Linked DNA regions of Homo sapiens. The protein of the gene in region 5 purifies or fractionates together with the protein of the main gene of each other region. This does not show direct contact. Each region holds a gene or a part of one and is shown on either strand. Other genes may lie near its edges. The genes, in order: ATP11C, ANO6, ASPHD2, LRFN3, TAS1R2, OSBPL8 and ATP2B2.

Region 1 (4,054 bases), on a different chromosome or scaffold from region 5:
AATTTCTTTGAAGGCTACACAGAGTGTCCGATACCCATCCTAGGAGTAAAGTAGGAGATCTGTAGTTATTCTAATAATAGTTGGAAAAAAAAAAAAACACACTCTGTAAATACTCTTGCTTTAGCCATATGGACAAGAGAAATTCTGACACATATTTAGTCTGAAAAAATGAAGAAATTACAACTGAAAAGGTAACATTCAATTAGGTTCAGAAAAAGGAAGTAACAGTTCTTTTAACAAAGGTTGTTGAAAAGTCTTTTAAGGCTGCAAATTCTGACCTGAAACTTGCTCCAGGAAAATGTTTTATATTAAGATAAAAAAAAGTAATATTATCAAATCCCCAAATACAAAACATAGACCACAAAAATAAGCTAAAATGTATTTAAACTGTCATTTAAACAGAAATCCAATAAACATAGTCATTTTCAACATTTCTCTGCTTACTTATTGGTGGGGGAAGGAGTATAGGCTCACCATTGCATTACGTTCCACATGGACTTTAGTTAACTCAATTTCATGATTTTGCACTCTGGGAAAAACTGCCGAGTCTGCTCCTTTACAAAAGAGAAGTATGTCTCCTAAAATAAAGAACCATAGTACTTGACTTAGAATTTTAAGGCTGGTATTGTGGTTTTAGTAAGAGTAACTTTTAAAGCGGTCTCTCTCACCCAAGTGTTGTATATTCTGAGCACACCTTGCAATACTCACCTAAATGGAATGAGAAATCTTGGCCTTCAGTCTGTCAGAAAGGCATGTACCACCTCTTCAAGGTCATTATGAACACAATTAATAAGCCAGAGTTTACAATAGGCACCTCTGTTAAAATATACTTCCTCCCACCAATTCATGGAGGGCTGGGCTTGTGTCAAGGAGCTGCATCTGAATTTCTTCTGAAAATGTATGCCAGGTGCAGTGGCTCATGCCTGTAATCCCAGCATTGTGGGAGGCTGAAGTGGGAGGATCACTTAAGCTCAGGAGTTCAAGACCAGCCTGGGCAACACAGGGAGACCCTGACTCTACTAAAAATTAAAAAATTAGCCAGGCATGGTGGTACACACCTATAGACCCAACTACGCTGGATGCTGAGGTGGAAGGATTGCTTGAGCCCAGGATGTCAAGGCTGCAGTGAGCTATAATCTTGCCACTCCAGCCTAGATGACAGAGTAATACCGTGTCTTAAAAAAAAAAAAATGCAGTGAAGCCATGGCCTAGAGCACACATATGGCATCTACAGATGTCAAGAAGAAAGCTCAAGCTCAAACAAGCTGAAATAATTTTGAATAAACTATATTAACTAGCTTCTAAAACAATGGCTTGATAGTTTTTACTGATGAGAATAGCTTTGTAGAATGCTGGTATAATTGCAGCTTTAGATCACTTCACACACCCAGGAAATATTCACAGTTGTGCACTAAGACAGACACTTTATCCTTATAAGGGAAACAACCGAGGTCAACAAATTAAAAAGTGTAGCTCTGAGGTCAATGACCTTTGTAGACCAGTTCCACAGACATTTCACCATTTGCTGTAGAACATGTGGACATGCACACATAAGAATAGCAAGTATTTGAAATGTTGTGTTTTTTTTTTCATTTATTCTTACACATCCAAAGTGTATTTTAAAATTCACAAAACAAACTCCATGGTCACTTATTAAAATCAATTTCATGACTTTGCAATCACACCACAAAGTATGAATTAAGTGGGATATGTTCCCCCAAGGATCTGTCTGTATCCTCCCATTCTGACATTAAGGAATTTAGAAAATTTAATAGTAAAACGTAAATTACTGGGAAATAAATCAAAAATTTTTAGAAAACAAACCACCTCGGCACACCACACACACACGTATCTGAGAGCCTTCGAATAAAGCAGGATTGCTCGCCCATGGGTCTTGCAGAATCTGAGCAGAAGGCAAACCACCATGGTGCCTCCAAAGACATGAGGGAGCCCAGGATTACAGTACCAGTTCCCCTGCAAAGGGCAAGCTTTACTCTGCTCAACAAAGAACCTGAGCTCTGGAGTGAAACTGCAATGCCATTTCCCAGAAACCAGGCCCTTAGTCCTCTCTACCTCACCTGTTTCCAGGGAGTGTCAAGCAGTAGGGGAACCAGGAAGGTCAGTGAGGGATAACAAGCAACTCCCTATACTCAAGGATTCTGCTGCTAGTAATCCCAAACCATCCAACTATGCTGGGTGGCTGCATGTAAACATTACTGGTAGACTGGTCAGTACCCTGAACCATATAAAAGTCATCCTTTCAGTTCCTGTTCGAACACCCAAGGCAGAGGGATATGGTTCTGCTACCAAGAAAAGGCACACCCTGTCATAACAAGGGTTCTGTCACTAACAATTTGGTAAACAGAACATCTGTGCTTAAAAAAATACATGAAAGCATATGCAAAAGCTACTGCTTTGCATGACTTTCACTAATCCTACACTACTACATGAAATGATTCTCTTTCCTGAAAGAGTGAATCAACCAATAAGCCTACAAATCAACAAAGAGAAAAATTCAAGCTTTTCAGACATGTACCTTCTTGAGTCTTCACAATTACACTCATACGTCGCCGGACAGCATCAAAGTTTAAGGTGTGAAGAAGTTCATATCTTTAAGAGAAATGAGCAAAGTAAAAAACCTAGAATATACTGAGAAAAATAAAGCACAACAGAAATATGTTAAGATATTTAAACATCTTAAATCAACAGATAGCACTGGTTGTGTGCACAACTGGTACTTTCCTTTGTCTCAGAATTTCTCTGAACATAGAACATGCTGTCAGAGGACACCAGTGTTAGTTAAGGGGTATTTATAGCCCCTCAGTATATTACTTAAAATGGTAAGGAGAATGACCACATAAAAATGGAAGATAAAGAGCTGTCCCACCAAGCCATATTTGGAGGGGTCTAGAAACAGTCCCACTCTGCCAATTATTTTAGCAGCATTTATGTATGGAGTGCCAGGCACAGTGCTAGGTGCTGGGGAATAGAGGTGAATCTGCCTGAGTCCCTTCCCTTATGCGGGTCACCATATGATAAGGGAGACAGAGCATAATGAGATAACTACCCTTCTAGTTTCTCAAATACTGTAATAAAGGCACTTACAGGGAAGATATAAGAACACAGAAGGAAGTCATCTGAAAGGAGGTTTCCTGGAAGAGGACATGCCTGAGCTGGGTTCTGCAAGGGTAATATGATGAAGAAAGGGGGCCATGGCATTCTGAGTAGAGGGAATGAGCACGGCAGCATGAGAGCACATGGCCCATGGAAGACTTTAAGTAGTTCACCAATGCCCAAAAAACTCATCAATAGGGGAATAGTAAGAGATAAAGCAAGAAAGGTAAGCAGGGGCTGGAAACACATCTTTGTGAGCCATTTCTGGAATTTGGGATTGTATTGTAAGAGCAAAAGAAAGCCAATAAAAGGGTTTAAACAGTGGAATGACATGATGAGACTGGTCAAATGTGTGTGTGGATGGCTGAACTAATCAATGGAGAGACACAGAAGAGTTAAAATAAGAGTTGGTTATTAGAAAAAGTGAGAGGAAATATTTCCTTGAAAATAAACAACTAGTATTTTTTAAAAAAAGTATTTACTACATAGCTTGTTTTGGTGGGAGTGAGGGGGTCATTAGTCTTGCGGGAGTATATGTATAAGACATCTAACATGGCATCTGGTTTGCTGTTGGCCAGATGTGGGCACTGTTGCAGATGGGCTAGAATCTAAACTCTGACAATGACCCTGGGTCCCTGTCAGTCAGACCAAGAACCTTCCTCTGGGCTTCTATGAATCTCTCTCCAAAAGGGTGCATTACCCAAGTACCTGTAAACATATTACAGGTTTCTGAGATGGGTCTCAGGAGATCCTAGGGGCCAGAATGAAAGTCAGATAACATAATTATATTTCAAGTTCAGATGAGGAAATTCAAATTAATCACAGAGCCTAATTAAAATCCACCATTAAGATAAGGTGGCTTTGTTCATTAGGGTCTTTGTGGCAAAAGAGGAAATGTGAAGACACTGGAGCATCAGAGTACTTGCCCCGAGGCTCACAC
Region 2 (4,309 bases), on a different chromosome or scaffold from region 5:
GGCTTCCGCTATGCCTGATTGGAGGCCACTGATGTGGGAAGCTGTAGGTAGCTAACTAGAAGCGGGTATCCTATGCGATGATTAGCAGGGCATATTTGGCTTTCTCTGGTTGGTCCTAAGGTATAAGCCGGGACCAAAATTAGGGAAGCTGTCAGTTATTCATCAAGTCCTGGTCATATTGGGCCAATTGTTACAGAAGTTATTCTTTAGTTTCCTGGATTGTAACTGGAGAGAGCACTCTGACTTTGTTAGTATAACCTACTGCAGGCTGGCTCTCTGGGCTGACTATTGCAGATAGCAGGGGCAGGGTGTGGATAGAGTTCTGCTTTTACATATGATCTGGCCATTGTCCATTTACATATTGCCTCTCAGTAATGAAGGGGAGACAGGGAACACAACCTAAATGGTTCTGGGAAAGGTGTCCTATAGAGAGAAGGCAGCAAGAGAAAGACGTTTCTAGTTTTGCCAGTTACGTCCTCTCGGTCACTATTGGTCATATAACGAGTATTTTAAAAAGGAAATGAATGGAATATGCTACATTTATAAGTGCTATTGCAGATATTTTAACACATTTCATTAAACTAGTAGGTGAAATCAAACATTATTCAAAAGTCTGGTAAAAAGTGGTAAAATTTGCTAGATTGATGAAAAGAATAGGATTTGGGCTGAGTTTAATAACTAGCTTTTCTGATCTGTAACCTTAATACACTGAATATAATTTTTAAAAATCCATAGCAAATCTCTGAAGTGAAGGCTGTGAAAAATCTACACAAAAGCACACATTTATCTAAGTGATACACAACTGGCCACTAGTAAATAGCAGATATATGTTCTCTTCCTTAAAAACGTTAAGACAATATAGAATAGACCATACTATTGTTTGTAAAAATGAATTTATTAAAATGCTCATAATTATAAAAGAATATTAAAATGCACAGAAATTAACATTAATAATTATAAAAGAATATTAAAATGCACAGAAATTAACATTAATTACAAACTTTACATCTTATGCCACAATGTGTGAAAAGCATCATGAATAGTTCTACTTCAGTTAAGCTGCTCATACATTTTTACCCTCTCAAACATAATATGAACATAAAATGGTACAAGAAGTGTTTCAACAAGAGTACATTCTGACCCCCATTGTGAATTAATGTTTTATGAAATTCAAGGCACACATGCAATAAAAAAGGGAAGACTTTGGTGACAGTTTATAAGATGGCCTTGTTTAGTTTTAAAATAAAAATGATAGCTTTCCCTTTCTAATGATATATAGCTAAATTATCTGAGGGATGTTTAATGAAAAATCCCCTGAGTATTTGCTCTAATGTTTCAATATGCTAAAATTCACAGGCATTAAAAAAGGATATAAAGCTCAGTTTCTCTAGTGGTTAACACTGGACAGGCTGAAGGCTAGATTCTCCCTCTTCACAGGTCCACTGCCACACCCATCAATTTCCCCAGGGCTGCTGCCTCTGAAGCCACTTACAGATGCAGCCACCATTGTCTGCAGACACAGCTCCATGCTTTTCTTTATCACTGCAAGTCAGCCGTGGACTCACTAACAAACACTGTGGATGGCATGGGGAAATGACCCTGCATCTCCACTACAACTTTGCTCTTTTGGGCATCTTAACAGTGTCAGATATTACATTTGGTGCCTTTCAATATGTAGAGGGTTTTTTTTCCCCTCCTGTCCACAGCAGCACATTTAATCTATGAAGAGGATTTTCTCTGCTGGGGCTATGAAAACAAATGCACATTTCTTTTAAGTTCTATCATACATACAGGAGATAAGGTAAAAACATTTCCTTTTCTATGCTGACATACATGGCGAGTAACTGCCAAATTTAAACACTAGGAGATAGTCACACACTTCAGAGAAGAGAAGAGGTACTAGAGAGGAAGTGACACCCGCTTCCAGAAGCAGTATCTCAGGAGTGAAGAGAGGAACAGTGGCACTCCCGTCTTGGCTGCGAATGAGAAAGAGTTTCCTTCAGTGGGAAGAAATTCATTTCTCCATCCCAGTGCAGTCAGACTTCATGGGGCCTGTCTTGAACTCTGATTGCATCATTAACACGATCAAGAGAGACAGTGAAATGGGGTCCCGGATCCACTGGGACAATTCAAAAGCCTACAATACTGCTTTGATGGATCCTACATAATTACTTACAAATCATTCATGGCAGGCATTTGAAATCAATCATGACCTAGAGTTACGCTACTTTATTGTAAAAAGCCTCTAAAATCTGAGTTTTCCTTTGCTGCTGGGATTCTGATAGGTTGGCTCCTCTGGTGTTTAACAGCATCCCAGTGAAGCCCATGCAGCATGACCATGATGCAAATCACCTCCCTCTTGTGCACCCAGCAATGACCTGTTACCAGTAGGGGTGAGAGGGCCTGGCTCCCTGTCTTTTCCAGAGCGCCCAGGAGGCCTGACACTTACAAGGCAATAAAGTGAAGTAGACTGCTAGGCTGAGCAAAAGTGAGGGGGCAAGACGTGCATGGCAAGACAGGAGTGCAGCAGGAAGTAATCTCCAGATAATGGTAGGGTTTGTGACCAAACCCTTTTCCTTTATTACTCTTAACTGCCTGATTGGCTCTAGAGGAGGCTAAAAAATCAAATCTAATCTGAGTCTCTTTACTTGATTATGAATAAGCTGGGTATACTCCTGTCTCTAGTACAATCAGACAGTTACATCAAATTACTGGGCCCAGAGTAACAGGATGGAGGATGCAAGGAAGCCACATTCTTTATGGCAGAGACTTTGGTGTGTTGATCACTTTGGCATACAGAAATAAGCCAATTCCTGCAGACTCCTTGACAAAAGGCACTCCCCACCCAATGACCACAATGAGGGCACTTGCTGTTTCTGCCCATGCACACAGTTGTACCCCAATGGCTGTGTAGTGAGCCATTCACAAAGGCAGCTGGTGATGTGTAATACTGCACCTTCTGTATCTAATGAATAAAAGTCAACTGGTAGAAAATTGAGGGGCTTATCTTTTCCAGACAATTATGTTGATAAAAATGTAATTTTAATCATGTGATATCACTGTTTTCCAAGAAACTACACATCTTTAGAAAAGATTAATTATCCAGATCAACATGAGTTAAAATGCTGTTTGAATCTGTAACTTTCCCTGCTTTTGTCATTTTATTCCCTTGAGATCTGCAAAGCAGTCAACATTGATTAGGCACGGAACCTCCTAGGAGTGCTCCTGGAAGATAAAAAGTGTCACTGTGGATTAGGACAAATATGCTTCAAAACCTTGCTATCTTCACTCCAACCTACTAAGAGTATTTTTTTGAGATGGAAAGACATGCTCAAATGAAGACTGAAACTATTTCCTCTGATTAACTGAGGTTTCCTTTCTGGAGGTATTGAAAATACACCTAAATATTGTGAATCCTTGAGTCTAGTTAGCTATTTTTAATCACATGAAAGCTATTAAATTAAATCTATAATGATGGTACTGTAAGGAAAAGATGACCCTGGAACAGATCTAGCCAAGTGAAGAAATGAAACATGGCTTAAAAATAAAGGAGATCATGCGCCTGAGAATAGACAGAAATGAAAATAATCAAACAGAAAAAAAAGAATCCATTCTACTTTAGAAGGGGTGGTTTTTAAGCACACTGAGGGACTTTTTCTGTAAAATTCCAATTTATCAGAAAAAGGTAACATTGAGGTTTTCCGGGTGATAAGTTTTATGCCCTTCATGATCTAAGTTTTACATTTTCCAGTTTCTGCATCGCTAGCTGAAACTGAAAAATAATACATGAGGAAATGGCAATAGTTGAGACTCATATTTGCCAAAGTGATTTAACTTACACATTCTCATTAGTGATTCCTAATATATTTTGACAAAGCTAAATTCCTTAAAGTGCTTCTCAGAACATAAAGCTCTTATTCTGATTTTGGCCGTAAATTGTTATCTACTGCTTCTATCATCCGCTCAGCTATCACCCCCATATTTTTCGTCATATCTTTGAGGTGATTCTCATGAAGAAGCTTTTGGGTTAGGTATTTTTCTCTCTGGATCTTGCTCTTTGTGCGTTTTGATACATCGGGAATTGCATATGAAATGAAAAATTTCACAGAGTAGATGACGTGCTGGGGAAGAGAAGAAGAAAAATGTCACTCACAAAGAAATGGAGGAGAACACCGAGTTCCTTTCATTCTTGCTTGTCATTATGGCAGTTTATCTGGACAAGGCAGTGGACATTTTACACACACAACCAACCGCTAATGCCATTGTGTCTAATCAACAGTGTGGCTCTAGCAGTTACTGTTACTTTACA
Region 3 (4,054 bases), on a different chromosome or scaffold from region 5:
TCTTCCTACTCAGCTTTGTGCTAAATACACACTTAACAGGTATCACTTCACCCACTTTCCAGATGGGGTAACTAAGAAGTTAAATGACCTGCTAAAAAGTTACCATTTAGTGTTGCTGAGTCAGCCTGACTCCAAAGAACAGGCTGTTATAAAACTGGACATGATGATATAAATGCTAGTTGTTATACTATTAACAGAGGAATTAAAGTGATTGTGGAGTTTTCGATTTTTCTTTATTTATTATTATTTTTTTTGAGACAGAATCGTGCTCTGTCGCCCAGGCTGGAGTGCAGTGCCATGATCTCAGCTCACTGCAGCCTCTGCCTCTTGGGTTCAAGCAATTCTCCTGCCTCAGCCTCCCGAGTAGCTGGGATTACAAGTGTGCACTACCGTGCCCAGCTAATTTTTGTATTTTTAGTAGAGATGGGGCTTCACCATGTTGGCCAGGCTGGTCTCGAACTTCTAGCCTCAAGAGATCCACCTGACTCGGCCTCCCAAAGTGCTGGGATTACAGGCTTGAGCCACTGTGCCTGGCCTGATTGCTGATTTTCTTGTAGTTAACATGTCTGATAGTTAATACTGAGTTTCAACTTGATTAGATTGAGGGATACAAAGTATTAATCCTGGGTGTGTCTATGTGGGTGTTGCCAAAAGAGATTAACATCTGAGTCAGTGGGCTGGGGAAGGCAGATCCACCCTTAATCTGGCAGGCACAATCTAATCAGCTTCCAGCAAATATAAAGCAGGCAGAAAAACATAAAAAAGTGAGACTGGCCTAGCCTCCCAGCCTGTATCTTTCTCCAGTGCTCGAAGCTTCCTGCCCTCAAACATCGGACTCCAGGTTCTTCAGCTTTGGAAACTGACTGGCTTTCCTTGCTCCTCAGTTTGCAGACAGCCTATTGTGGGACCTTGTGATCATGTGGGTTAATACTTAATAAACTCCCCTTTATATATATATGTGTGTGTGTGTGTGTATGTATGTATGTGTATATATATATATGTATGTGTATATATATATGTATATATATGTGTGTATATATATATGTATATATGTGTGTATATATATGTATGTATATATATGTATGTGTATATATGTATGTGTATATATGTATGTGTATATATGTATGTATATATATGTATGTATATATATGTATGTGTGTATCTATATATATGTATATATATGTGTGTGTGTATATATATGTATATATATGTATGTGTGTATATATCTGTGTGTATATATATATCCTATTAGTTCTGTCCCTCTAAGAGGACCCTAATATGTTTCAACTCTCAATAGTACATTTCATTAAATCAGCTGAGACTGCTCATCCTGACAGAAGCCATGATTTCCCACTATGGTTAACAGCAGCTGGGGGAGTCAGGGCTGTAAAGACGCCCAGATGGAGGGACTCAGAGGCTACGTTTTCCTTTGGCGTGTGCCCCTACTGGCTGGTTCAGGTGGCGAAGGCCTTTAGGAATGGGCAGTTCTCTGCAGGGACAGCCACCCCGGGGTTTCAGAAAGAAGCTCCCCTTTCTCTGGGCCACTAAATGATTCATCGCCACGTGCCACGGTGCGATAGAAAAATGGCCTGGCCTGCTGGCTTGACACCCCCCTGCTTCTTGTTCTCCGCCTCCCCTTCATTCTGCTCCTGCCCCCATTCCTGCCTGTTGCCCACAAACCAGCTTAGTTGGCAGAAGAGCTCAATTCTTCCCTAAACAGATCATTCCAGTGGCTCTTGAGGACAGTGACAGGTCCCACACATGGCCTCAGATAGTCCCATATGCTCCTCTATGGCTCAAGCTTTGCTGCTCTGTCCCTACCGAGCCCTGAAAGAGGCAGGAAGGAGGGTAGAGAAAGGGCTGTGTCCACCAGTGGCCCCCACTTCAGGCGGCTGGCAACCGGGCACTCAGGGTGGGCAAGGGGAACATGAGCTGATCTACTGTTACCACCCGGCTAGACCACCTAGAAATCTGATGACATGCAGAAAAGAAAAACAAGAGTCTAACTGTGCTTCTTTAGCTAGAATTTGCTGAACATATTCATGCATTTTCATGAAGTATCTGCCTCCCTGGTAACATCTGCCTGGTGAGTTTCAGAGGTGGTTTTCTGGAAGTTTGTGGCAGTGCATCTGGAATATCCCAGCATTGTGTACGATGCTGAGTGGGGGGTGGGCCTGAAGCTGTCCTGTGGTCCCATATGAAGTCGGGACTAGGTGATGCCACCTCTAGAAGTAGCTCACAGCAGGGCTCAGCAAATATGTCTCGAACAAATGGGCTGTGTTAGTGAGGAGCAGTGGCTGGGTCTTCAGTGGTCCACAGGGACAATTCCATCAGTCACAGCTCAGGCAGAAGGCAGAAGAAAAGCAAGCATTGGCATTTCAAGAGCACGGTTCTGGAACTGCAGGTGCCTCTACCTTCAGCCAGGTAACCAGCAGAGGTGTGGCCACCAGGTACGCACCAGGCTTATCCTGCTTCTGACCTCATTCTCTGGACTCCCTCTCTGTCAACACACAAGGTCACATAAATCCGACACACCTTTGTTTCCTTCCTGGGTGGATATTAATGTGGGCATGATAGTGTAAAGAAGGAAACGCTGAGAAAACCCAACCAGGGAGCTCGCCTTGGCCGTGGAGAACAAGCCACGCCACAGTGGGACGTCTTCCAAGAAGGTTTCCTGCTATCTACAGGAACATGGAGGGCCTACTTTTTCTGGCAAGTACCTAGCTGGGCTGAGAAAGGAATGACAGGCCACAGGCCACAGTGTGAGCCAGCGTGGGCATGTTTTACACACACACACACACACACACACATGCATGCATATCATACAGATGAACAACAAGTGTTAATCTACAGAAAGCAAACCCCAGATTTTCCTTGCTACCATCACTTCCTACTCACACCTCTTTGAAATTCTACCACATCAGTCCTCAAATGCCCTTCCCCAGATGTCATTCTGAAGTTTTAAAACAATACATAAAGGCAAACCTTTCAAAAGAAGAGCATCACTCCCCATTGCCCACGGCCTCCATTCTCAAGCCTGGCATCAAGGGCCTCTGAGGTTTGCTCCCACCTGACCTGTCCAACCTCAGCCCACACTACTGGCCTCCCCAGCAAGCCTAGACCCGGCTTCCCCAAGCCCCAGGGGATGATTCCGCTCCCTCGCTCCACCCTGGCGGCACCTGATTTCTGTGTGGGGATCCTCCAGTGTCAGACCCACCTCCCCAGGGCACCCCGTCTGCAGCCAAGTGAGGCTTGGGGCCTCGCACAGCAGTTTTGCTAATGACCATCACCTGGATTATCATCCCATCACTTAGATTAGCTTACTGTCCACTGCCCTCTACCTGCCAAGCATTTTACACATATTACTTCCCACTCCTCAAAACAGCCAGCAAGTGGGAATCGTCATCTCTGTTTTAGAGAAGATAAAACGGAGGCTTAAGGAGGTTCAGAGCCCTGCCCAAGGTCACTCAGCAAATGGGGCGAGGCCAGGACCTGAGTCCAGATCTGTTTGCTTCCGAAGCCTGTTCCTTTCCCACTGTTTCCTGGGGGCAGGGTCTATGTCTTATGGATCATTTTTCACATGGTCCAACACAGTCCTTGATAATAGCTACTAGCTCCCATTCATCAAATGCTGTCACGTGCCAGGAATCCTGCCAAGGGGCCATGTAAGATGCCACTCATTGAATCCTCTCAACAATCCTGTGAAGTAAGTACCATCTCCCCATTTTACAGATGAAGAACTGAGGCAGAGAGAGACTCAGTGACCTGCTCAAAGTCTCACGGCTGACTGCTGACCAGGAATTCAGGCCACCTCCCCCAAAGCCTCCACCCAGTCCGCCCTTTACTCTTGAAATTCCTACCATGTCAATTGCTCAAATCTCATTATATTTTTCTTTTCTTTTCTTTTCTTTTCTTTTCTTTTCTTTTCTTTTCTTTTCTTTTAGTGCAGTGATATCCTCCATCCAAACCACATCTTACTCAGAACCCCCACACAGACAGCAGGAGAAGCAGAGCTGCTGAGGGTGAAGAGGGCTCGGGGGCCCCCAGCTCCGGC
Region 4 (4,054 bases), on a different chromosome or scaffold from region 5:
TAGGACAGCATTCATCCCATTCCCCACCTGGCAAGGTGGCCAGGACTTGTGTGACTTTTTTTTTTTTTTTTTGAGACGGAGTCTCACTCTGTCACCCAGGCTGGAGTGCAGTGGCACAGCCTCGGCTCACTGCAACCTCCGCCTCCCAGGTTCAAGCAATTCTCCTGCCTCAGCCTCCTGAGTAGCTGGGACTACAGGCGCGTGCCACCACACTCAGCTAATTTTTTGTATTTTTAGTAGAGACGAGGTTTCACCGTGTTAGCCAGGATGGTCTCAAACTCCTGACCTGGTGATCCACCTGCCTCGGCCTCCCAAAGTGCTGGGATTATAGGGGTTAAGCCACCGCGCCTGGCCGACTTGTGTGATTTTCAGGGGCAGGACTTCCGTGCAATCTTCCGAGTCATGTCTGAGAAAGGGAGTAGAATGAGCTCAGTGGGTTGCCAGGACTGAAATGGAAATCAAGTGGCCTTTTCTTGAGGTGTTGGCCCCAAGGGAGGGAAAGGACATCCAGGTACTACTAGGTCCCCAAGGAACAGTCCTCAACCCTGGGGAGGTCCAGTCTTTACAGTCAGCCTTGGGGCTGCACCCTTGGCCCAGCCTGGCCGTGAGGACAGGGACTCACCCACAGCCGCAGTCCATCCATGCAAGGTTGGACTTTGGTAAGAGGTGTCAACAGCACCTAGGTCAGCAGCCACCACTGCTGACCACATGCGGTCACTGCAGATGTGCTGAGTGCTCTCCAGCTTGGGGGAACAAGTTGGACTGAGCCACCTCTTGGAGTGTGTAAACCCCAGGTTCTGTGTTTGCAACAACAGGAGAGAGAAGAGAATCCCCCACAAGTGTGGCAAACTGGATATTTCTGTTTACCTGGCAAAAGGAACTTGAACTAGGTTTGATTTGATTTAGAAAATAAAAAATCTGTCGGGCGCGGTGGCTCAGGCCTGTAATCCTAGCACTTTGGGAGGCCGAGGCGGGTGGATCACGATGTCAGGAGATCGAGACCATCCTGGCTAACATGGTGAAACCCCATCTCTACTAGAAATACAAAAAATTAGCCGGGCATGGTGACGGGCGCCTGTAGTCCCAGCTACTCGGGAGGCTGAGGCAGGAGAATGGCATGAACCTGGGAGGCGGAGCTTGCAGTGAGTCAAGATTGTGCCACTGCACTCCAGCCTGGGCAACAGAGTGAGACTCCGTCTCAAAAAAAAAAAGAAAAGAAAAAATCTACACTGGGTGTGGTGGTTCACGCCTGTAATCCCAGCACTTTGGGAGGCTGAGGCAGGTGGATCACCTGAGGTCAGGACTTCTAGACCAGCCTGGCCAACATGGCAAAACCCCGTCTCCACTAAAAATAAAATGCAAACATTAGCTGGGCGTGCTGGTGCACGTCTGTAATCCCAGCTACTCGAGAGGCTGAGGCACAAGAATCGCTTGAACCCGGGAAGTGGAGGTTGTAGTGAGCCGAGATTGCACCACTGCACTCCAGCCTGGGCGACAAAGTGAGACCCTGTCTCAAAAAAAAAAAAATCTGGATGTCACTATATTAGAACTTGAAACATGGAATAGTTCACACCACACACACCGAAGCCCAGTCTCTATCGAACCTCCTCCCTGCAATTTCCTTCTAACCTCTGGTCTGATTTCTTTTTCTAACAGAGCTGCTTATTTCATTGTTTCTGGGCTCCCTGTGCTTTCCTGTTTGATCTCCTTTTCTTCCTGCAGCCCAGCTAGTATCTAGTCCTGTCATCTGGAAAACCTGGTGTTTCTCTCTTTATCTTTACAACTTAAATTTATTTTTATCCCCTTATCTTCCCCACCCACCCTTGCCCATTAACATTTTATTCTTCTGCCCTGATTACTTTCTCCTCCCGCTGCCTGGTTTCCTTTTTATGTTTGCTACTACTATTTATTCTTGCTGCCTAATTTCTTTTTACTCATGCAGCCTGATTTCGTTTATCCTTATTGCTTGATCTTTTTTAGCCCTGTAGCCTGATATATTTTAACATTTGCTGTCTCATTTACTTCGTCCTTCTTGTCTGACTTCTTTTTATCACTGCTGTCAGATTTCATTGACCCTTTCTGCCAGAGTCTTGTTATCCTTGCTGCCTGATTTCTTTTACTTTTGCTCTCTGATTTCTTTTGGAACCTTCCAGCATCACTTATCAGTTGTGCTTCGGTGTAGGGTATTAGTAGGTGTACCCTCAACCCTCCCCTTGCCTCACTCCCCCACCCAAGCTACCCCAGTGCCTGGACCCTGCACCTGTAGACGAGGATGTCATCAGCCGAGCTGTTGTACTGGATCTGGTACATGCGGATGCCCGGGATAGGCCGCTGATCCGGCCACTGGACAAGAGCAGCTGTGGCCCCGTGCTCAGTCACCTGGACGCCACGGTCGGTAGGGGGCCCAGTGTCGGCCACCTTGGCAGAAGCAGAGGCAGCGGAGGGTGGGGTGAGAGCATCAGGATCCCCGTCCCGCGGGGGGTCACAGCTGGTGCTGTTGGCTAGCTGAGGAGGTGGTGGGGGACCCACAGTCAGCTCCACAGCAGCTGTGGCCTCGCCAGCTGCATTGGCCGCAATGCAGGTGAAGATGCCACCATCACCCGGCTCGGTGACCAGCAGCTCCAGCGTCCCATTGGGGAAGGCGCGGGCACGGCTTGAGTTGCCTAGCAGCCGGCCCTGGGGTGACACCCAACGCACACGGGGCTCTGGGTCCCCCACTGCCCGGCAGCGCAGGGCAGCCGGCCGACCTGCGGGCACAGCCAGAGGTGGTGAGCGGTGAGTCACCACGGGCGGCTCGCAGACAAACTCCTCCTCGCCCACCGCCCAGAAGTAGCGGCCGCCCAGAGCAGGTGGGGACGCGCAGGCCTCGAGGTCGTCCTCCCGCGCCAGGCGACGCAGCCACACCAGCTCGCAGTTGCAGTGCAGGGGGTTCCCGCCAAAGGCCAGCACCAGGGCAGAGGCGGGCGAGCCCCGGGGCCTGGCGAGCAGGGGCAGGCGGGAGAAGAGTGGGTCGGGTGGGATTGTGGTCAGGCGGTTGGAGGTCATGTCCAGCCGGGCCAGCTTGTGCAGGCGGGAAAAAGCGCCGGCGGGCACAGAAGCCAGCAGGTTGTGGTCGAGGCCCAACGTGTTGACGTTGCCCAGGCGGCCCAGGGCCTCCCAGGGCAGCTGCTCGAGGTTGTTGTAGGAGAGGTCGAGGTCCTCCAGTGTCTCGGCACAATCATCCAGGGCGCCGGCCGCCAGCGCTGCCAGCTGGTTGTTGCTGAGGATGAGGTGGCGCAAGTTGACCAGGCCGCGCAGCTGGCCCTCGCCCAGTGAGGTCAGCCGGTTGCCATCCAGGTGCAGGGCACGCAGGGCCCGCAGGTCGGCGAAGGCGCCGGCAGCCACGTGGCGGATGGTGTTCCGCGACAGGCTCAGATGCAGCAGGCCTGTCATGTTGGCCAGGTCGCGGCGGCGCACGGAGGCGATGAAGTTGTCTGCCAGCCGCAGCTCGGCTGCCCGGCGGTCCAGCGAGGGTGGCACGAACAGGAGGCCTGCCCCTGGGCACAGCACGCTTAGGGGCAGCGACTGTGTCTGGCAGCGGCAGCGGCGGGGACATGGGCTGGGTGTGGCTGACTGGGGTGGGGATGAGGCAGGGGCCAGCGGCAGCAGGCACAGGAGCAACGGGAGGATGGCCATCGCGGGCAGGGGTGTCCTGCGGAGAAGAGGGGAGGCGTGAGGGCAGAAGAGGGGTTCTGCAGGGGCTGGGGGTGGTCTGAGACCAGGAGAGAAGGTCACAGTGGGCTGAGGGCAGAAGGGCTGGTCAAAGACCGTCAGATGTGACCAAAAGCCAGAGGAAGGCCAGGCGCGGTGGCTCACACATGTAATCCCAGCATTTGGGGAGGCTGAGGCAGGAGGATGGCTTGAGGCCAGGAGTTCAAGACCAGCCTGGGCAACAAAGTGAGACCGTGTATCTATTATACAAAAATTTTTAAAAATTAGCTAGGCATGGTGGCGCCCACCTGTGGTCCTAGCTACATGGGACACTGAGGTGGGAGGATCAATTTGAGCCCAAGAA
Region 5 (3,500 bases):
ATTAATGAAAATAAAAACACAACATAACCCCACAAAAAGACAAATACTGTATGATTCTACTTATATGAGGTGTCTTAGGTAGTCAAACTCATAGAAACATAAAGTAGAAGGATGGTTGCCAGAGGCTGGAGGAAGGAAGAAATGGGGAGTTGTTCAATGGGAATAGAGTTAGAAATTTGCAAAATGAAAAAGTTCTAGAGATCTGTTGCACAAAAATGCGAATATACTTAACATTACTGAAATGCATGCTTAAAAATAAACAAATTGGTAAATGTTATGTTATATGTCTTTTATCACAAAAATAAAAAATTTTAATGTACCAAAATTAATGGGGTACAGTGAAAACAATACTTAAGAGGGAAATTTATTATTATAAACATCTGTATTTAAAAAGAAGAAAGATGTTACATCATTAACACTCACTATCTTATCAAATCACTGACATTCACTATCTTATCGTAGAGTTTACTCTTTCACTCTCGATCTCAATGTAGTCCACATGGAAGTTGTTCATCTTGACATTCTGCAGAATATCACGCTGGTCTATGATATTCATGACACCGTGGTAATTGGACCTGGTTAGTAGAAAGTAGCAAGCACTTTTATATCCAAGTAAGACCTATGAATGCCAGAGGATTGGAGATAAACCTTGTAAAGATTCAAAACTTGGGGTTGGGGGTGCTGTTACATTGGTGATGTTTTTAGGAGGCCAAAGGTACAGAGAATGCCAGGACATCCATTCTAAGATAATAGACAAGTCATCCACCCTACACCTGCTACCATGAAAGTATGGAACTTTATAAACCTCTTTAGATTTGCGGGACAACATAAATTGCTCCTGGAAATACTACTGCAACCCGTTTATCAGGTGATTCAGAAGGCTTTCAGTTTCAAGGCAGAGGGTAACAAGTCCAGAAAATGACTCTGAAGAAGGCCCTGGCTTCTGTATAAGCGATCCTGCCACTGGGGCCACATGATCGAGGAGATCTGATGATGTTTGAGTTATCTATGCTTATAAGAATGGGCAAGCCCAAAGAGAGAGATGCAACAATGCCATGCCTTCTACAACAACATGCTACTCACTACTTGAAAATCAACTCTTGGAGTCCTGCTGGGCCATCATGGAAATTGAGTACCTGACCCCAGGACATCAAGTGACTATCAGATTCACAGAGTCTTATAGAGAGGCAGGAATAAAAACAAGTCTTCATATAAGGGAAATGGTATCCAAGAAGCGCCAGTGGGTCCAAGTAAATTTCTTAAATCAATTATTGTGACTCCTGTATCTATTTCTGTTGTAACAAATGCCTCTCCCTCAAATCATACCTAAGACCTCAGGGAGAGATTCTTTATGACAAATAAATAGAGGAGAACATTCAGGAATGATTCACAAGTAGGTTGGTTTGATATATTAATGTGAGCTGACAGTGGACTGCTGCCATACTAAGCTTTTTTCAGGGATACAAAGCTTTTTTCAGGGTGAATTCTGAAGGACAGTAATGATGGGAGATACTGCTTGTATGTGGAGATGCAAGCAGGACACTTGGTTGTTTGCTTTGTGTGAATGGAGAGATGTCCTGAAGGATGGATATTCTTGAGATCCTGGACATATGGAATGGCTTGGCTGGTTGTTCAGGGGCCTGGAAGGAGCAAGAGTGGAAGAATGGAGACAAAGTTGCTTGGGGAAAGGTATATGTATGGATCCATGAGAGTGAGCACAAAGCATGAAGATCTCTGTGTCTCATGTTAATGCAAACCAGAGAGCAAACACAGAGTAATAGAAACCAGATTAAAAGGTTGACTTGTCCCAGCCAGGCACCGTGGCTCATGCTTGTAATCTCAGCATTTTTTGGGAGGCCAAGGTCGGCAGATCAATTGAGGTCAGGAGTTCCAGACCAACCTGGCCAACATGGCGAAATGCTGTCTCTACTAAAAACACAAAAATTAGTCAGGTGTGATGGTGCATTTCTGTAATCCCAGCTACTTGGGAGGCTGGGGCAGGAGAATCTCTTGATCCCTGGGGGCGGAGGTTGCAATGAGCCAAGATTGTGCCACTGCACTCCAGCCTGGGCGACAGAGCGAGACTGTCTCAGAAAAAAAAGAAGAAGAAGAAGAAGAAGAAGGTTGACTTGTCCAATGAAGGTCAGCTGGCTTTTGTCCTCAGCCACCCCAAGGCCTGCACAGAGTGGCCATGATGTCAGGGATGGAGGCTACAGATATGAACCCAACAGCTTGAGCTTCCTCTCATCATGGCTGACCTAGCTACTGCCATTGCAGAACACCTAACATTCCAGCATCAGAGACCCACCCATGCTGAGCCCTTGACTTGATACAATTCTTCAAAAAGACCAGCCAACCAACTGCTGAAAGATCTATTACATCAGATCTTTTCCTCTCTGGGAAAATTCCAGGAAGGGAATTTTCCTTCCCTGATTTCAATGCAGCATCGCCATCTGGGGGCTTACAGAGCAAATGATTTATTGATGCAGGACACTGTATCACCTCAGATCAGGAGTCAACTTCATGGTAAAGGGGTGTGACATGGGCATGTGACCACAGGCTCCACTGATCCTAACATATACCACATTACCCAGAAGTATCCTATCTAACCAGGTGATGAGATGACATACTAAAAGCTCAGCTAAGGTACCATCTTCAGGACCCCCTGCAAGGTGGGGACACTGCCCTTTAAGATGAAGTTTTGAATGAATGGCTTGTGTATAGTGTTGTGGCCTCAACAGCTAGAATATGTGTATCCAGCAACCAGAAGGATTGGCTACATGCACCATTATTCTCAGGAACCCATTGCAGCATTGGTGCTTCTCCTCTCTACAATCTTACACTCTGCTGGAATAGAGATTCTGGTCCCCAAAGGGGGAATACTTCCACCAGCAGACACTATAGGGCTCTACGATTACCATGTGGTCATTTTGGGTTCCTCATGCCAGTGAATGAGAAGGCCAAGAAAGGAAGAAGTAACTGACCTGGATTCGTGGGTGGAGCTGAGGTGGTTGCTACACAAGTGGAGTAGGAAGGAGTAGGTCTGGCACCCAAGGACTCACCAGGCAACCCTGGGTGCTTCAATCCCAGTGCACCTGCGGGTGGGAATCTGCAGCAGGCACAGCCCAGAAATGCAAGGCAACTAAGGGCCCAGACACCTTGGGGAAGAAGGTCTGGATCACCCCCCAGGCAAGTGACTGAGAGCAGCCAAATGCTGGCTGAGAGTGAAGAAACCCAGAATGGTAAGCAGAAGAGAGAGATGAATATCAGTGACAACTTTGGGTAGTGGCTAAGTCCGCCAAACTCCCTTTCTGTTAGAGACTGAGCTGGCGGCTGCTCTAAAAAGTCTGTGACTCCTCAGGCTCAAGGAAAGCCACTGAGTGGAACAAGAAATGGGCCTCTCTGTGGCCTGCCTCATATTTTCTCAACCCACTGTTTATTCCAGCCATTGCTGCAGTCACCAGTTTCAAGCAAGTGCCACCTGTCAGCACCTGGCCTCG
Region 6 (4,054 bases), on a different chromosome or scaffold from region 5:
ATAATTCAAATGTACATTTTCCTTATTTTGCATGAGGTTTTTACATGTTTAAGGACTGTTCCTATTTCTTCATTTTCCAACTGCCCAGTAATTTCTTCCACTCCTTTTTCTGTAAGTTTCCTTTTCTATAGAATCATTTTCATTCAATTTTTAAGAGCTTTTTTTAGGGAGGTTAACATTTTGTCTACGATGAAATTTGCAAAAATTTCCCAGTTTACCAATTATTTTTTGACTCAGCTTATTTTTTTCAATGTTCGCTCATGCCATTTATAGACAAAAACCGAAAATAAGTCTTGATAAAGATTCTAAAAATTAGGTCGCAGGGCCAGATATCAGTGGCACAGAAAGCACAGTGCCTTGAAACACCATTATTGCTGGAATAGGGGCATCAGGTAAGAATTGGAAGCATGGACACAAAGTTGCTGTTCCTTGCAAAGTTTACTGGTTTTCCAAGAAATTGCTGGGACAGAGGTGGATAGCACCTCCTCTGCCTCCTTTAGGTGTGCCTTCTTCAAAATTACACCCAGGATCAGCTGGCGGCTTCAGAAAAGCAAAGAAAATAAGGATTTGTTCCAAAAGCTAGCAACTGGCAGGGCATTCTAGTTCTGGTAAGCCGTACATACCTCACAAGCATGCAGACAGACAAGTATGAGCAAACACAGATGCCCCAGGATGGGACTGAACAAGTGTTTTTGTAGAGGAGAACAAATGATGCCAATCACCTCTCTCTCTCTGTTAGGTTAGTGAACTGAGGTTAAGGAGCCTATAACGGCAGTGTTGTTGAGTAAAGGGTAGAATTCTTGTTTTCCTCGAGCTTATGATATCTCAATTTAACTTCATAAATGGCAACATTATAGCAAAGTATCAAACATGCTTCTTACTAAGGGTCAACCACAGAAGTGGTAGAGAACAGAGAGTGATGTCTCATTAGAGCCTGATTTTGGAAACAAACGATAATTGAAAATAGCATTCTTGAGAATTTCTAAAATCATGAAGTATTGTCTATTTTAAGAAATAAGAATCTACTTACTCAGATAGGAAATCTGCATGATAGTAGTAATCTGAAAGTTTATCCAGGAAAGAACGGGGTTCCAAAATAAATGTAGGCAGAACCACCTTGGATAGGTCCATGCCAGGACGGACTTGTTTCAATAGTGTCCAGATAAGGCTTTTGTTTTCTTCAGATACAGTTTCTGTTTGAGAAGCCTCACCTGCCTTTATCAATTAATGAAAATTACCAAAACATTATATTTATTTCAGACAGATATGTAAACAAGCCAGCTAATGTTGAAAATATGAACTCTTCTCAGGACTACTCCAAGCATTCTTTAAATGTGGAAACAAAAAATAATAATAAAATCTATAGCTATAAAACTTAGGTAAAAAAGGGTAGCTGAAAAAGACATCAAAGTGAACAATATATACAAGAGATCCACTACAAAAATATTATAGCCTATTATTTTATACTACATTTACTTCTATGATGCACTGGCAATAACAAAGTTATAAACTCACGTTTCCTTGCAACTTTGCACCTGGCAATGACATCAAGCAATATCCTACTTCAAAATCAAGCTTGAAGAAAATGTAAACTTTAAATTTAATAGAATATATTGGTATTTATGTGAGTATATGTGTTTAGTTGTTTGTAAATCCCAATATATTTCATATGTATGCAATTTTTAAAATATCACATTCTATCACAGAAAAATAGGCAATAGATCAAGCAAATAATATCTTCAATTTCATTTAAGAATTCCCAAGAATATGAAAATCCAGAACCTCTAAAAATAGCAGACTTTTACCTCTCCAAGTTCTTCATGGCTCTGTTCAGTGTAGGTAGTCTCCTTTAAAGGCTCAACAGGCTCAGGTTCGATATATGAGTCATCTTGTCTTTCTGATGTATCTGTGTCACTTTCTTCACTTTTCCCCATCACCTCATTATCAGACTCATCATGTTCTTGATCATTTTCTTTATCAGATTTATCAGAATACATATCTTGGTCCTTAAAATGTTGTCGTTCAATTTCACTATCATTTAACCTTAAGGGAAAGAATTTTTAGGAGGAAGAATCAAGGATGTTAAGAATGCTCAATTCATAAATAATAATTATATACAACATTTATTGAGAATTTACTATGTGCCAGACAGTGTTCTAAGTGTTTTACATAGTGTTAATTCACTTAATCTTCAAAATAACCCTATGAGATAGGTAGTATTATTATTCTCATTTTACAGATTAGTAAACAGAGGCATAGAAAAATTAAAAACCTAGAGAAATGCAAAAAGATGACACTCTGAGCTCTTTGCCTCTCTACCACTTGGGGCTAAAATCCTCCAAAACCAAGAGTTTAGACTTCTTGTTAGATATTTTTCTTAGTTTTTCAAACAGCATCACTTGCATCAATCTCACTGTCACTTATGGTATGAAGAAAAAATGCAGGTCCAGATAATCAGATTCTCAACTGAACTCAAATAAATTATGACTTTCCACCTGTATAAGAAGGTTTCCAAAGTCACCTCACATGAGTCCAAGAAAAATATATGAAAATGGTAAATGATAAACAATTATATTAAATTCTATTCGTCTGAAAGGTTTAATCCTGAGCCAAAATCCAGAGAGAATTAAAAATGAAAATTTCAGCTGAAAGAAATTAACCTATGGACTAAAATCAAGTAAGTTTTGCTTAATCTACCCTATTCTCACTTAAAGTGATTAGGGCAAAAAATCTGTACAAAAGGGGGAAAGTCTTGGAAAGAGGTTCCAACAAATACCCATTCCTCTATCAGTAGCCCACCCCATTCCATCCTATCTCATTCGGGCACCAGGTACTTGGGATTAAGATAAAGCTCCAGATCGTAGGTCTGCAAAGAAATAACATAAAAGGTCAGGTAATGGAGATTTTAAAGAGAGTGGGGGAAAAAAGAAAAGAAAAAAAACCTGGGCAACATAGTGAGACTATGTCTCAATAAATAAATAAATAGATAAGCCAGCCAGCCAGCCCAGTGTGGTAATACAGGCCTGTAGTTCTCACTACTGGGCAGGTTGAGACTGGAAGATGGCTTGAGCCCAGGAGTTCCAGGTTACAGTGAGCTATGATTGTGCCACTGCACTGCAGCCTGGGCAACAGAGTGAGTCCCTGGCTCTAAAAAATTTTTTAAAGTAATACAGACAGAAAAAAAAAAGAAACAAGCAAAATGATAGGGAAGAAATGTCTAAATCAGGCAATATGAAGAAGAGGAGAATAGCAGTCTAACTTTGAGAAGAGCAACCTCAATGCTGATGAAAGTGGTTACAGAGCAGAAGCCAAGGGGTGGGGACAGGGAGGAAATAGAAAAGTCTAATGTTTTTCCTGCAAAGCAACAAAAAGACCTGAATCTCAAGAAAGTCTTTGCACTACTGCCCAGTTTCCTTGGAGAAATGCTTTTTTAGTGTTAACTACAATAAATGCTTCAGGGAATAAAACCACAAATAGGATACAGTTCCATTCCAAACAGAAATATAAATGAATTTCACAAATACCAGGTAGAGTTAAGTCCAGTGCCATTACTAAAAACATGTTACTCTATAGAAAGACAGATTATGTCTCATAGTTATAAGGTTTCACACATGATGTAATATTTGAGACTGATCTTGAAGAATATATAGACAGGAGAAAAGCGTAAGGAGGAGTAGGCAGAAATCATTCTTAATAGAAGGGACATCATGCACAGACAAGGTGAATAATTAGCATGGCTATATTTGGGAAAGATAAAGTAAATCACGTTGGCTGGAATCAAGGAAATACATTTCTACACCTGATTATAGCAGCTAAACAAATTTTAAGCCGGTTCCTAGGCCATATAATGGGAAGATATGCAAATTTCAGTCCTAGATACACTACTAAAATTCTAGGCCTGCCAACTAATTTTGTGAACAGTATGGTCTCTGAAACATTACCAACTCAGCGGCAGTATCTACTTACTGGAAGTTATCACCACTGTGGAGATTGTTAGCACGTAGTAAGCCATAGAAAGTCACATGTGTGCTATCTGATGAAACGCTCAGGTCAT
Region 7 (4,618 bases), on a different chromosome or scaffold from region 5:
CACTGGTGGCTGAGATGCTATAAAAACAGCTCGGCCCAACAGACACTTCCCCTGGGTTGCATCCTGGATGTTTTATGATAGCCATGCTCTGATTTTTGCCTGCTATTTCCGTTCAATAATGTCACTACCGTGAGAGGCTCAGGCAGAAGCCAAATGCTACCGAGTTGCCATCCTGAGGGGTTTAACAACATGCTCCGTAGACGAAGGGAGAGGAGGAGAGAAGGCTTCCTGGGTTTGCAACACTAACGGCCATCCGGCCCAAGGATGCCAGGATCTGCAAAGCACTGCTCGAAGACTTTTCTCTCAATGAAACTCGCTTGAGTTTACTAAGAGCATTTCAAAAATAGGTTCTCTTTGGCACTGTCTGTACAGAGATTGAGGTAGTGTTGAAATATTATAAATGGTATTGTGTTGATTTTTTTTTTTATTTAGTAACTTACAGGTTTGTTTCCTTATTAATGGCAGCATCTGAGCTGTTGGCATATTGGATGAGGATCAGTATGGCTTGCTGCTTTTATTTTTATTTTTGAAGAAGAATAGCCTTTTTCTCTGCACTATTTAGATCCGAATGAACCTTATGATGTGTATATTGAGATGTACTCAGTGTGATTTTAAACCAAATTGTCTTCCTGTAGTCACAATATATACTGTAGCCTTTTAACAGCAAGTCTTGCTTTCCCAAACAGAAAGCCATTCTGAAACCCTACAGTATCACAGGTGAGAAAAGGTGGTTATTTTTTCCCCAAGACAACAGCACTAGTAATCCCACTTAATAAGAGCTTATTTAATTGGATGTCAGCCTCTTAACTGCTAAGCACTTTGTGGGTCTCAGCGTTTTTCATAAAAGAACTTTTGTATTTAATACAAAGTTTGCTTTGAGACTTTTCAGCATATGATCTTTTTTCCATAAACTTGTACAGTGCAAAAGACATTTTGAATACCATGATCGATGATGTCCCATGCTTCGAGGAAAACCAAACACTTTCCGCCTCTCTTGCAAAATCCATTCCTCATGCTGACCCTCCTCACGATGGCTGTGTCAGCCCAGCCCCTTCCCTTCTCCAGGCCCAGAGAACTCTTCCACAAACAAGATGAGAGCCACTCGGGAAAAGAGCCATAGTCAACTGGGAGGGCCTACATCTGGATGGCGGTGGAAAAACTTGAGGGTTTGGGGTTCAAAGTCAGCCCATCCCACCTGGCAAAATCCTCCTGGAAGGAGGACCTTCAAGAGCGCATCACCTGAATGTCGTGAAGAAGTATCTCTGAATGTATCCAGGAGAGGAACTGCATAACCAAAGGGGTGACCAGCCCTCAGATGTGCTTATTGGATTCCAGTACAAACGCCACCAAAGCCAGCCCACTGCTCTCCTACAAGGAAGGAAAGATCTGCACGTGTAAAACATGGGGCAGCCTTGGAACATGGTGTTTTTTGGAGTTTCCTTTCTCACAGTTTTCCATCTCCCCACTTCTTTGATCAGTCATGTGTCCGTGACCTCGTTCCATGACATCAGGATAGCTGTGTTTGCACACCATGCTCCATGTTCATTCGGAGCCAGGAGGGGTTCTCAGTGGAGCCTGGCTTAGGGAACAGGGAGCGATGGAAGAATGCCAACATTAGCGTTGGTCTTCTCTTGTCAGGAATGAAGGATGCTTGCACACATGCACCCCCTCACTCTCACACTTGCACACATACACACACACACACACGAAATGGTTGGTTTGTCAAAACTCACTGTAGTACATAAAGCTTGCACTCTGCGTCCTATATCTAGCAGCATGGGGTACGTTTGGCAGTTCACTCCATTAGGGGGTAAATAATTTATGACCATTCATCTGTTTTTATGAATTTTTTTATCTAGACAATAATGTAAATAAAGAACTCACCATCTCTGTTCATTTAATACTATGCAATGGTTATGCTTTCAATCGCTGGCTCTTCTGACTCGTGCAGTGTGGTTCTGAAATGTTTGTGGTTTAAAAAAAAAAGCAAAAAACAACATCAAACAGAACATAGTAAATATATCTGTAATGTATACTTTTTTCTACTTTGGGACTGCATCATCCACATAGCTTCTTTTCTGTCCTCTAGACAAGGGCTCCAGGAGTAAGTGGCAGATTTGGTTCTGAGAGCTAAGCTCACCAACTTGTCTCCCCCTCAACAGATGAGGGAAGGGCAGGGAGCCCGTTCAGTGACTCCTGGCGCTGCAGAATCACTCATCTTTGGAGGTGAGCAGAGAGAGCTCTGAGGAGTTTCCTTCTTGCAACTCAGGCGGAGCTTTCTTTAACTCAGGAGCAGCCTCCATTGCTCCCGCCAACCCCTCACCATGGCCCCTTGTCCCCTTGTCCCAACCATAGCATAGAGATGACAAGAGAGAGGCAGTCCTATTTCTGAGACTGGACCAATTAAAATGACTGCACTGGCTCAAAGGACTCTGAACCTGTCTTGTCCTGGGTCCTCCAGTTGTTGGAAGCCACTCTTTTCCCCAACCATGCTGAAATGCCACCTTTACCACACACTGATGTCTTACATAGACTTAGATCTATTTCTGGAACTTCTCTTCTCTTCGCTTACTTGGGTGTCTCATCTGGCACCAGCCATACAATTTTAACTATTGTCAATTTCTAATGTCTTATTATGTGGTGGGATGAGTCCCTTCACTCTTCTTTTACAAAATTTCCTAGTTATTCTCTCACATCTATTCTTCCACATAAACTTTAAATTGTGCCCAGTCCTCCACCCCCTGTCCCATTCCCACCCCCAAATTCTGGGCTCTGTCATTCCCTGTGCCATCATCTTCCCCCCATTGTAATTACTGTCCACTCAGGGCTGTGAAATAGACTATGTTCTGTAAAGAGGGACAAAAAGGGCATCCTGATCTTGAGAGAAGCCTGCTGTTCCTCCCATCATTTCACCTGCCCCCTAAGCCCAGGAGTTGTCATGAGAGGTCACCAGGCCCCCACTCAATCTCAGCTTGGGAACCAAAGTCACCCACCTTGGTTGTGTTGGGGTGGACCCGCCATCTGTCCCTGGTCCAGACGAGAAAGAGGAGTCTCTCCTAGGCCTGGAGCTGGGAAAGAATGTGTGGCCCAGTTGTCTGCACTTCTAATTCTCATCATGGAGAAACCTTTATTCCTATCTCCCTTTCCTGAACTGGTTTTTTGTTGTTTTTGTTTCATTTTGTTTTGGGGGGATAGTTTCTTGCTCTTTAATTTGGAGTCTCCAGTACCTTTGGGATGCAGGCAGTTCTTGCCTGGGCCTTCTCGGAACCCTCACTCCCCTAGCCCACTCTTGCGCTACCTGCAGGAGGCTGCCAACCTGGTGCATTCTGACAAGCCTCCCACCCAAATCTCTCTCCTGCCATTGTGTCCAAAATCCCACCATTAGAGGCTCTTGTAGGGAAGAGCGTTTCTTGAAGGCTTTTAGGCCTTCCAGAGCCAGGAGGGAAGTCAGACAATAGCAGGAAGTCCCCAGGCCTTTTCAAAGTTCCAAACCAAGCTCTCCTGATTTTAATGTAGAGATCATACCAACCCAGGTGGGGGAGGAGGGTCCCCAGCCCCAGGCAGCAGCCATCACCCCCTCCACTGAAAACAATATTGGAGGCTGCTTTGGGACTGCCCTTCTCAGCCCCCTAAGTCTGTTTTGTAATGCCTGTGGTGCTCTCCCTCCTGGACCTTTCCTCTCGGGGGTCACCACACTTTGCTAACTCTTGTGTGCACATATTTTATAATAGAGTAGCGAGGGAATGGTGCCGCCTCCAGCTTCCGTAAGCTGCCCGGGCTCTGGGGGGCTCTGGGACAATCGGGGCTGGGAAGTGACTGTGCTCTTATTGTACACTCTTTATTTCTCTGTATCTTTGGCTTGTGCTCTTTGTAATTAATGGGATTTGTCTGCCTTTTCAACACTATACTGAGCAATAACAATAAATGCACACGTGGAAATGCAGACACGGTACACATCACAAGGCCTTTTTCTGAAGGACAGCTGGGTCCCCGCCCTTCGTGGAGTTGAACTCAGGGGGAAACTGAGTCCCTGGGAGGGAAATGCACTTTGCCCAAGGGCCCACAGCTCAGCGGGCAGTCTCTCTCCTTCCACTAGATCACACCTTTTGAACACCCACCATTTGAGGGAGACAGGCTCACCCTGCCATGAGCCATTAACCTATGAGGAATGGTTGACCATCTCATAGAAGAAGACTGGGGAACGGGGCCTCAGGACGAAGCGGAGGAGGTTTGGGGGCAAGGGGTGGGGGGGCAAAAATCAGGGAAAGTTGGCCTGATTTGGGGTCTGGATTAACCAGAGGGAGGAGATGCGGAATACAGACACTGGATCTAGGTGGCACCCCCCTACTGGGGAGAGGGGTAAGGCAGAGGGAAGCCTGGCACCTGAGGAGTCTGGACTTCACAAACCTCTGCTGAACATTGGCAGAGAAAGAGAATATGCCCAGACCAACAAGTAATCCCTAAGGTTGGCCCAAGGGTTGAGAGTTACACACACACTCACACACTCACACAGCTCTTCTTAGGTTGAACTGATCCCCAAATCAAGCGCCATAGGCCCATCTGACTTCCATACGCAGTTTCATATCCAAGGGTTCATTTAATCCCAATATCAACCTTC

The links.
Region 1: the proteins of TAS1R2 (region 5) and ATP11C purify together in Homo sapiens (affinity purification with mass spectrometry; one large-scale study listed by BioGRID and IntAct). This does not show direct contact.
Region 2: the proteins of TAS1R2 (region 5) and ANO6 purify together in Homo sapiens (affinity purification with mass spectrometry; one large-scale study listed by BioGRID and IntAct). This does not show direct contact.
Region 3: the proteins of TAS1R2 (region 5) and ASPHD2 purify together in Homo sapiens (affinity purification with mass spectrometry; one large-scale study listed by BioGRID and IntAct). This does not show direct contact.
Region 4: the proteins of TAS1R2 (region 5) and LRFN3 purify together in Homo sapiens (affinity purification with mass spectrometry; one large-scale study listed by BioGRID and IntAct). This does not show direct contact.
Region 6: the proteins of TAS1R2 (region 5) and OSBPL8 purify together in Homo sapiens (affinity purification with mass spectrometry; one large-scale study listed by BioGRID and IntAct). This does not show direct contact.
Region 7: the proteins of TAS1R2 (region 5) and ATP2B2 purify together in Homo sapiens (affinity purification with mass spectrometry; one large-scale study listed by BioGRID and IntAct). This does not show direct contact.

Annotation. Positions count from the first base shown.
Region 1 is NC_000023.11:139,782,690-139,786,743, forward strand, and holds part of ATP11C (phospholipid-transporting ATPase IG), read right to left. Parts: intron 2,611-4,054; coding exon 2,537-2,610; intron 579-2,536; coding exon 475-578; intron 40-474; coding exon 1-39. UniProt on the Homo sapiens protein: Catalytic component of a P4-ATPase flippase complex which catalyzes the hydrolysis of ATP coupled to the transport of aminophospholipids, phosphatidylserines (PS) and phosphatidylethanolamines (PE), from the outer to the inner leaflet of the plasma membrane.
Region 2 is NC_000012.12:45,428,917-45,433,225, reverse strand, and holds the end of ANO6 (anoctamin-6), read right to left. Parts: intron 4,122-4,309; coding exon 3,915-4,121; 3' UTR 877-3,914; downstream 1-876. UniProt on the Homo sapiens protein: Small-conductance calcium-activated nonselective cation (SCAN) channel which acts as a regulator of phospholipid scrambling in platelets and osteoblasts.
Region 3 is NC_000022.11:26,435,599-26,439,652, reverse strand, and holds part of ASPHD2 (aspartate beta-hydroxylase domain-containing protein 2), read right to left. Parts: intron 1-4,054. UniProt on the Homo sapiens protein: May function as 2-oxoglutarate-dependent dioxygenase.
Region 4 is NC_000019.10:35,939,047-35,943,100, reverse strand, and holds part of LRFN3 (leucine-rich repeat and fibronectin type-III domain-containing protein 3 precursor), read right to left. Parts: intron 3,692-4,054; 5' UTR 3,676-3,691; coding exon 2,261-3,675; intron 1-2,260. UniProt on the Homo sapiens protein: Cell adhesion molecule that mediates homophilic cell-cell adhesion in a Ca(2+)-independent manner. Promotes neurite outgrowth in hippocampal neurons.
Region 5 is NC_000001.11:18,842,661-18,846,160, forward strand, and holds part of TAS1R2 (taste receptor type 1 member 2 precursor), read right to left. Parts: intron 1-3,500. UniProt on the Homo sapiens protein: Putative taste receptor. TAS1R2/TAS1R3 recognizes diverse natural and synthetic sweeteners.
Region 6 is NC_000012.12:76,388,615-76,392,668, forward strand, and holds part of OSBPL8 (oxysterol-binding protein-related protein 8), read right to left. Parts: coding exon 3,967-4,054; intron 2,044-3,966; coding exon 1,806-2,043; intron 1,216-1,805; coding exon 1,031-1,215; intron 1-1,030. UniProt on the Homo sapiens protein: Lipid transporter involved in lipid countertransport between the endoplasmic reticulum and the plasma membrane: specifically exchanges phosphatidylserine with phosphatidylinositol 4-phosphate (PI4P), delivering phosphatidylserine to the plasma membrane in exchange for PI4P, which is degraded by the SAC1/SACM1L phosphatase in the endoplasmic reticulum.
Region 7 is NC_000003.12:10,323,348-10,327,965, reverse strand, and holds the end of ATP2B2 (plasma membrane calcium-transporting ATPase 2), read left to right. Parts: 3' UTR 1-3,943; downstream 3,944-4,618. UniProt on the Homo sapiens protein: ATP-driven Ca(2+) ion pump involved in the maintenance of basal intracellular Ca(2+) levels in specialized cells of cerebellar circuit and vestibular and cochlear systems.